2 separate regions of the Homo sapiens genome follow, and region 1 is linked to region 2. Evidence: fine-mapped expression QTL. A gene starts in region 2. The other region holds a variant in brackets. All regions are shown on one strand. Distances are from middle to middle.

Region 1 (4,397 bases), 59 kb after region 2:
GAATACTATGCAGCCATAAAAAAGGATGAGTTCATGTCCTTTGTAGGGACATGGATGAAGCTGGAAACCATCATTCTCAGCAAACTATCGCAAGGACAAAAAACCAAACACTGCATATTCTCACTCATAGGTGGGAACTGAACAATGAGAACACTTGGACACAGGAAGGGGAACATCACACACCGGGGCCTGTTGTAGGGTACGGGGAGTGGGGAGGGATAGCATTAGGAGATATACCTAATGTTATATGACGAGTTAATGGGTGCAGCACACCAACATGGCACATGTATACATATGTAACAAATCTGCACGTTGTGCACATGTACCCTAGAACTTAAAGTATAATATATATATATAAATATATATAAAAGAAAAAAGTATTTTATATATATATAATATATATATATTATATATTATATATAATATATATAATATATTATATATATTATATATATTATATATTATATATATTATATATATAATATATTATATATTATATATATATATATATAAAAGAAATTGGCTCACATGATTGTAGCGGCTTGGGGAGTCTAAAATCTGGAGTGGGCCGGCAGGATGGAGGCTCAGGGAAGAATTGCAGTCTGAGTCCAACCAAAGGCTGTCGGCTGGCAGGATGCCTTCTTGTGTGGGGAGGCCAGTCTGTTCTATTCAGGCCTTCCACTGATTGGGTGAGGCCTGCCTGCATGATGGAGGGTCATCTGCTTTCCTCAAAGCCCACAGATTTTAATGTAAATCTCATCCACAAAACACCTTCACAGAAACATACAGCATACTGTTTGACCACTTTTCTGGCATTGCGTCCCAGCCAAGTGGATACATAAAGTTAATCATCACAGGGGCCATGGAATCCAGCCCCTTCACTTGATAGGTGGGGAAATGGGGGTCTGGGGGGCTCAGTGATCCACAGGGAGACAGGCAGCAATTCAGTGGGGGGTGGGGGCTGGTGGAGAAAATGTCTCCTGGTTTCCATCCTTCGCTCTGTGCACCCACTCTACCACTCACGAGGGTGGCTCCCCGTGGGCAGAAAGCACCACGTAGACATGGTCTCAGCACATGGTCATTTGGATGTATGGGGTTGGCTTGTTTACAGAGCTGCAGGGTGTATTTTAGAGGAGCACTCTGTTGGCAAGCTTGGTGTGTGTCTTCCAGGATCTTCTAGCTTGGTAACTCAGTTAGAATTCCAGGAAAGTGAGCAGCTAAAACCTGAGGATGTTTTCCTGGCATAATTCTTTCAGTCAAGCCACAAATACTCTCTGCAGTATACATCCCACTCTCTGTCTTGTTTTTTAGGGTTTTTCTTTTCAGTACAGTTTTGAGCACCTGCCTTGTGCCTCAATGAATACTTGTTGGGTGATGAATGATATAAAATTCATCTTGACATTCAGCTTAGGTTTGGAAGACAGTGTATGATTTCTTTACCATGGCCTTGACTCATCTTCTGAATGGTCAGGCTAAGTGCTGCCTCCTTCTCTGTGTAGCCTATTCAGGCACCTGCTCACCTACCACAACCTGCCAGGCCCCTCCTGCTCTGGAAGCATGCTATGTGAGAAATAATCCTAATATCCAAGTCACAGACAGTGGGTGGGCTTGGAAGTGCAGGGCCTGTGATCCCTTTGTGGAGTAGCTGAATTTAGAAGTGACAGCAATTGTGTTCTATAATGAGAATGGTCCTGATCATCATGAGAATAATAGCTGCCTTTTATTGAGAAACTGTCAGGTACCAGCTACTGTGCTGAGCATTTTCTATGCATTTGCTCCCATGTTCAGATCCCTCCTCTGTCTTCGTGTGTGATATGGTTTGGCTGTGTCCCCACCCAAATCTCATCTTGAATTGTAGCTCCCATAATTCACACGTGTTGTGGGAGGGACACAGTGGAAGATAATTGAATCATGGGAGCAGTTTCCCTCCCACTGTTCTCATGATAGTGAATAAATCTCACAAGATCTGATGGTTTTATGAGGAGAAACCCTTTTCACTTGGT[C/T]GTCATTCTGTCTTGCCTGCTGTCATATAAGATGTGCCTTTTGCCTTCTGCCATGATTGTGAGGCATCCCTAACCACATGGAACTCTGAGTCCATTAAACTTCTTTTTCTTTATAAATTACCCAGTTTTGGATATGTCTTTATCAGCAGTGTGAAAATGGACTAATACAATGGGTAATTGTGAAACCTGATTCTCAGAGTCAGGAGAAGTTTTCCCATTGAAACAGAGCAGAATGCCCAGGATACACCTAGAATGGTGTCAGCACAACATATGAGACATATGGAGAATGCAGTTGACCCATGAGCCTGCATATATGGTGTCATACTGGAATACTCCCTGAGAAGCGTTGTGTAAACCACATAGGACTAAAGGCCCCTCATTTGCAGACTCTGCTGGGGTTCTTTGTATAGGAGGACTTTATGGAAAATAATAGAGGGGCTTGACTTTACTGTGTATGCCTTGGTTAAAGTAATGTCCCTCAAAAGCCCCTTTGGTACTCAGAGACATGGTTCACCCCTCAAAGTCATAGAAGGATCAGTGATGGGAGCTTGGAGTGAATGGTAACAATAGATGATAGCATCAAGTCAATTATTCAGAAAAACTGACACTAGTGGCTTAAGTACTCAAGCATTTATAATCTCACTTGAGAACTATGAGGTAGGTATTTTGAGGTTGATTTATCAGCTCTAATGTCTCGTCAAGTATCCAGGGTCATTCTTCATTTCTGCCTCTCTCTACTTAGCTTTTGACTGTTGCCTTCAAACTTACTGCTTCTTGGTCACAAGGTGGCTACCCCAGCTCCAGGCATTGCATCTGAATTCAAAGAAGATACAGTGTATGTATTTGTAGGTGGGGTGGGATGAGGTGAAAGCGCTTCTATGTATGACTTCATGCCTGTTCCTTTTACAGGAAACCAAAAAGTTTCCCAGAAGACTTCCAGATGACTTCTCTTTACCTCTCATTAGTCAGAACAAGATCAAATGGGGATCCCTAGGCATAAGGGAGGCTGGGAAAGTGAGCATCTTGGTGGAGAGGAAGATGATGGTCTTAACCATATCAGATATATTTTAATTCATAGTCTTGGAGCAGGTACTTTCCTGAACAAAACTGGGGTTCTGATGACAAGGAAGAAGGGAATCTATGTGAATACCTTCCATAATAATCACTAGCATCATCTCATTCAATCCTTGCATTGGGAATTATTCCTATCCCCATTTCACATAGAGAAAGCTGAGGGTTAGGATGGTGAAGTGATTTATCTGAGGCCACATAGGCTCTTAGAGTGTCCTTATAAGGTGTCCTTATGTTCTTAGGCACCAGACCTTCTATTTCCTTGACACTCCCCTGGGTGCCTGTGTACTTGGCAAATACTAACAGCTTTCTGGTTGAATGAAGAAAGGACAGCACATCCATTTGAGGCAGAAAGTCATGTATTAGGATTCTATCCTGGGACTATGGGATCAACAGATCCTTGTTTTACTGGCAGAAAAGTTGCTTCCCTGGACATTATGGAAATAACTTTAGATTAAAGATCTCTCTGGGAGGAGGTTTCTGGCTGTAAGTAGTGGAGCCAGTGAACCCTGAGGCCATTCTGACACTGCCAGCCCCTGACTTTCCCAATAGCCCCAACCAGGTGAGGAGACAAACTCCCAGTGTGATCAGCACCTCTGGAGAGTTTGCCATTCAATTTGGAGGAAACCACCATGTAGGAGAGGAGCTGACTTCCTCTAAGTCCTTCCTGAGAGCAGAACTAGAAAAAATGATTGAATTTGTCAGGAAGAAGAGTGTCTCACTGGGGAAAAAGTATAGATTCTAGCAGCAGAAAGATCTGGTTTTGAATCCTGTTGTGCAAATTAAGTGAAATATACATATAAGGTGCTTAAAACAGTGCTAAGAACCTAAGTGCTTCCAGGATGTCTCAAATCAAATTAAGGTTGGCCAACTATAGAATAGAATATCAGTAAGATTGAAACTTCCTTATCCTGGAGGTATTCAAACATTTAACTCCTTATTAGGGGTTAAATCACTCAAAAGCAACAGAACCACCACCAACAAACAAAACCAGCTAACGTTTTTTGAGTACTTACTCTAACTCACTATGATTATTTTTTATTGAATATTTATGATGTGCTTGGCACCTTGCTAAGCACTTTATGTGAATTTTCTCATTTAATCCTTATGACAATTTTAGGAGGAAGATATTATTGTTATCCCTACTGTGTGGATGAAAAGACTGAAGTTGAAAGAGGCTAAGAAACCTGGCCAAATTCAGCTGGGGATAGAGATGGGCTTAGAGGTCAGATCTGTCTTTTGCCTTGCCCTATGATGATAATCAGCAGAGCATGTTGTTCCCATGAAATGTACCCTTACTTGGGGGAAGATTGCATGAGATAG
Region 2 (4,372 bases):
AACTTGTATACAGAAATAAAGTACCAACATATTAGATCATTGTCCTTAGGAACAAGGAGGAAGGAAGGAAGGTTCCCATTTTGTTGAGGGAGAATAATTTAGGCATAATTGGTAACTCCAGTCGATAAAAGACATAGTCTGTCAATAGCAGTTGGTCTTACTTTCCCGTAAATAAATTACTTGATTTTACGTAAATAAGATTTCCTTATGGTGGTCCCTAAACTCCCCTGGGACAGCCTCCAAGTAACTCCAACGTAAATGGTTATATGCTGGTGGTTAATACGCTCAAGTCTCTCCGGACAGACCCCCAGAATTAAATAATGTCTTTCTTTACATTGTGAGACAATGGGAATTTGATGCATTACAAATCACAAACAAATGGGAGGCACGGGAGTTCAAGTTGCCAAAATAACCACATTTTCTTGATAGTTTTCTCAAAATTTATTGCCAATGCTTCATCCAAGCAACGACTGGTAAATCTCAGTAAGCGGGAACCTGGCCCAGAAACAGAATTCTCCATTGAAGTCAATTTAAGGGTGCAGGGGCCCATGGTTTTAACCAAAGGTGGCAGGAAAAGGCTCCCAAGGGTGACTCTGGCTGCACCAGTCCATTCTGGAATCACTTTCATCGCCCCCGCTCACCGGGCTAAATGCTGAGAGTCTCTGAAAGTCAACTGTCGAGGTCAGGGGCTGAGAAATTCCAGGCTACCTTGCGTACTAGCCGGCGCTGGCATCGTTAGCCAAGCTGAGCAGGGAGCGCAGCGGACCTCAGGTTTCCCGCCAGACCACAGAGCTCAGGTGAGGCCTCGAATCCAGAGGCTCACCGGGGCCAGGCAGGCTTTTCGCAGCTGACAGGCACCCCTGGAAACGGAGTGCACTCTATACAAAGCAGACCGACCGAGAGGGCCACCGAGGAAACAGGTGCAAGAGCCCTGTCCTCCCAGAAGCAGAGCTCTTGTGGGATTCATCCCCTGCCCCCTTCCCTCCTTTGCACCTCTGCAGCCCCAAGCCTCCACCGCTCGCAAGTCCGCCCAGTAAGCGGCTGCCCCAGGGACCATCTGGCCGTCCCTTCCTGGTTACTCATCCTCCCGGCCACTTCGTGGTTGCCCGTGCCTGGGCAGGGCCTGGAAGCGCTCCAGGCGGGACCTTCGTCGGATCCCGTCACCTGTCGCGTCCACAGCGCTTGGGCGCTGGGAGCCGGGCCACCCCGCGGTGAAGGGGCTCAGCCCACCCGCCCGCGCCCCCACATGGGCAAAGTGCGCGACTCCGGTGTCCTTAAAGCAGGGACCACTAAAGCTGTGTGATTAAGTTTGAGCGAACGTTTGGGGACACGATCCGCGAATGTCATCAGACTCTCAGAGGGACCAGGTGTTCTGTAAGGAGTCGTGTCCACTTGGAGACACTGACCTTGAACAATAAGAGAAACCGAATTCCCTGTCTCCGGTGGTCCGAAGACCTCTGCAGAAATCGGGCCCCGTAGTCCCACCCTCCGGGTCAGGGTCTCCCTCCTCAGCCCGCTCCAGCCCTGCCTGCCCCTCATTCGCCGTCCCTGCGCCCCCCAGACCAGCCCGGGTCAGTTTCGCGGGGGCTGGAAGTTGGTAGCGGGTCCCCTCACCTGCTGAGGTCGCTCACGAAACTGCCGCTCTTCTCATCCAGGAAGCGCTTCCAGCCGTCGGCCGTCTTCACCCAGTTCTGCCCGGGGGACCGCCAGTCCTGCCCGAGGAATGGCATGGCACCGCGAGCGGACTAGACGGATGGGGAGACGGGGCCGGCCTGGTGGGCTCGGGGACGTGCCACCCGGGGCGGATGCTCGGGGTGCAGGGGCCCGCGACGGGGGCGGCGGGGCGGCGGGAACGGCGCGGGGCACCCTGCGGGGTGGCGGGCGCGGAGAGGATCTCAAGCGTTGCAGGCTCCGGGAGTGCTGCGCGGCAGTAGCTGCCGCAGTATTTATCCCCGCAGCCGGCCGCAGCTCTTTGTTGCCGGAAGAGCCGCCCGCTCTTAGCCCGGCCCCCCGGCCCGGAGGCCACGTGGCTTTGTTTATGGGCTCGGCTTGTTTTCCGAGGCGCCTGCGGCTCACGCTCCCCTCCCGGTTGCACAACCGCGCCGGTGGAAACTTGAAGCGGTGCTGCCGGGCCGGGTACCCCGCCGCCCCTGGCACCTCCGCGCGCCCTCCCCGCCCCCAGGACACCGTTGTCCCAGAGCGAGGCCCGGCGCTTGGAAAGATGCGCCCCGGTCTCCTGCAGCTCCCGGGCTGACGGGGTGCAGGGAGGGGGCCGGAGGGGCGTCTGGGTCCCTGCGGGGTGGGCGTGAGGAGCAGGGCCAGCCCCCCTCCTGCCCCCGAGCTATCAGGATCGACCTCCGCAGCCAGATCAGCCTCCCGGGCCGTCCGCAGAGCTGGGGCCGGCACCGCGCCCGCCGGGCGGGGAGTAGGGGGCGCAGCCTCCTGACCTCGCTCACTGCCCCAACCCCGCCCTAGCGCGCGGGGGTTGGAGCGGGGAGGAGGGACAGCCTCCCAGCCCTCCGGGCCCCTTAGCTGTCACTAACCAGTCCTCCTTCAGACCTGCCCCTGGGGCAGCAAAGGAGGGGAAGGAGAGGAAGCCCTGGGAGGTATCTGGCTCCCGCAGGTTGGGAGTGGAGAAAAAGAACAGCGCCCCTATCCTACCCGAACCCTCTAAGAGACGGGTTAAATGATGTACCCAGGGCCAATGCTACAGTACAATCTGAAACTACCCTGTTTGCTTTTACTTTTTGCTGTTGTTACAACAATCTACCCCTGTCTGCAGTGGGAACTCCATGAGAGCTGGTCTGTCTTGTTCCGGAGGCATTTCAGCCCCTGCACCCTGCCAGGCCCAGTGCAGGCCTTCAACAACTATTTGTGTGAATAAGTGAATGGATACGGGAGGCTGCTGGCATGAGGGTGGCTTCTTGCCCTTCATCACCTCTAGTTATGATGCTTTACAGCCTGGTCTATTTGGCAATTAGTTTGCACAGGACAGCAGCAGCAGAGTAAAAATCCCATACTCAAGCATTAGCTTCAAACTTCATTCTTCCATTCTTCTTTCTCTGCAGCCATCAATATCATCTAGTCCACTGACTCGGTGTAATCTTTAAGGCTCAGGCAAAGAAATTGTGTGTGCCCTATGAGGCTACATGTTGGACTGGGAAGACGTTTTTAATAAAGTTTGTTTTCAAGAAGCCAGAGCTTTCTGATTTAGATTTCCCACCGTAAATAATTTATTAGTGTAGTAATAGTAAAAAAAAAGCTTGTAAAAACATTGAAGAAGTCCCAAACAAATGTTAAACACTGTGATGGTGCTAACAAATGAGGCAGTGTTGGGTCTGGTCTCTGTTGGAGGGAATTGGTATCTGCATAATTAAGGGATGTGATTATTATTATTATTATTTTTGAGACAGGGTCTCATTGTGTCACTCAGGCTAGAGTGAGTGATCATGGCTCACTGTAGCCTCAGCCTCCCCAGCTCAAGCCATCCTCCCACCTCGGCCCCAGTCTCCAGTAGCTGAGACTACAGGCACTCACCACTGCACCAGGCTAATTTTTTATATTTTTTGTAGAGATAGGGTTTTGCTATCTTGCCCAGGCTAGTCTTAAACTCCTGGGCTCAAGTGATCCTCCTTCCTTGGCCTCCCAAAGTGTTGGGATTACAGGCGTGAGCCACCATGCCCGCCTGGGATGTGATTATGAACAATGTGGGTTAGTTATGTATTAGTAAGCTGGCTACATACCTGTAGAGACCACAGAGGGCCAGAAGGTAGAAGTTTTGAATTCTAATTCTGCTGGAGCAGCATACTACCTGTCCTCCCTTGGATGAATGACTTAAACTCTTAGGGCCCCATTTACTTAACTGTCAAGAAAAAATGGAGCCAATAATGCCTACCTTTCAGGATGGTTTAAAAGCTGTGGTAGATTGAATTATTAGTACCCATTCTTCCCTCCTTTCCAGTAGCGTCATGTGCCCACACTTTTTGGTGATGTGTATTTTTCTAATTCTTGACAATGGGCTTGGCCATATGACTGGCTTTAGCCAAGGGGATGCTGATGGATGTGATGTGAGCAGAGGATCTGATGTATGTACTTGCCTGGTTGGTCTTGATGTTTTGTGTGTTCACCTGCTCCATGAAAAGAGCATACCCTGTGTAGCCACTGCTCCTGGAGTGGTTTGAGTGACATCCGTGTGTCCCAGGATGTGACACATGGAGCAGACACTCCCGTTGACCTCACAGATGTGTTAGCAAGAAATAAATGTGTCTTGTTGATGCCACTGAGATTTTTGTGATTTACTGTTACACAGCATTATTGTGTCGATAGCTGACTACTATAAAGGGTTGAGTGGCTCAAAGTTGGTGAAAGTTTC

Which allele goes with the higher level. Alleles are on the strand shown, and positions count from the first base shown. SD is a standard deviation of normalised expression in the study named.
For the expression in tibial artery of the gene that starts at base 1,922 in region 2, allele C in region 1 goes with a higher level than allele T (small effect, 0.15 SD a copy in GTEx).

What was found. PIP is the estimated chance that this variant, and not a neighbour inherited with it, causes the effect.
Region 1: its variant is the best candidate, but not a certain one, in a credible set for the expression of FBXO32 in tibial artery (GTEx, PIP 0.53).

The regions. Positions count from the first base shown.
Region 1 is chr8:123,598,581-123,602,977 of GRCh38, forward strand. No RefSeq gene overlaps it. Among named protein-coding and RNA genes, the nearest start is that of KLHL38, 53 kb to the right of the region's middle. The variant C/T (reference allele first, on the strand shown) is at 2,004.
Region 2 is chr8:123,539,285-123,543,656 of GRCh38, forward strand. It overlaps FBXO32 (F-box protein 32), which reads right to left and starts at 1,922. Exons shown (of 9, transcript NM_058229.4): 1 at 1,615-1,922. The coding sequence starts at 1,730. RefSeq lists silencers at 1,819-1,908, 1,959-2,068, 2,159-2,448.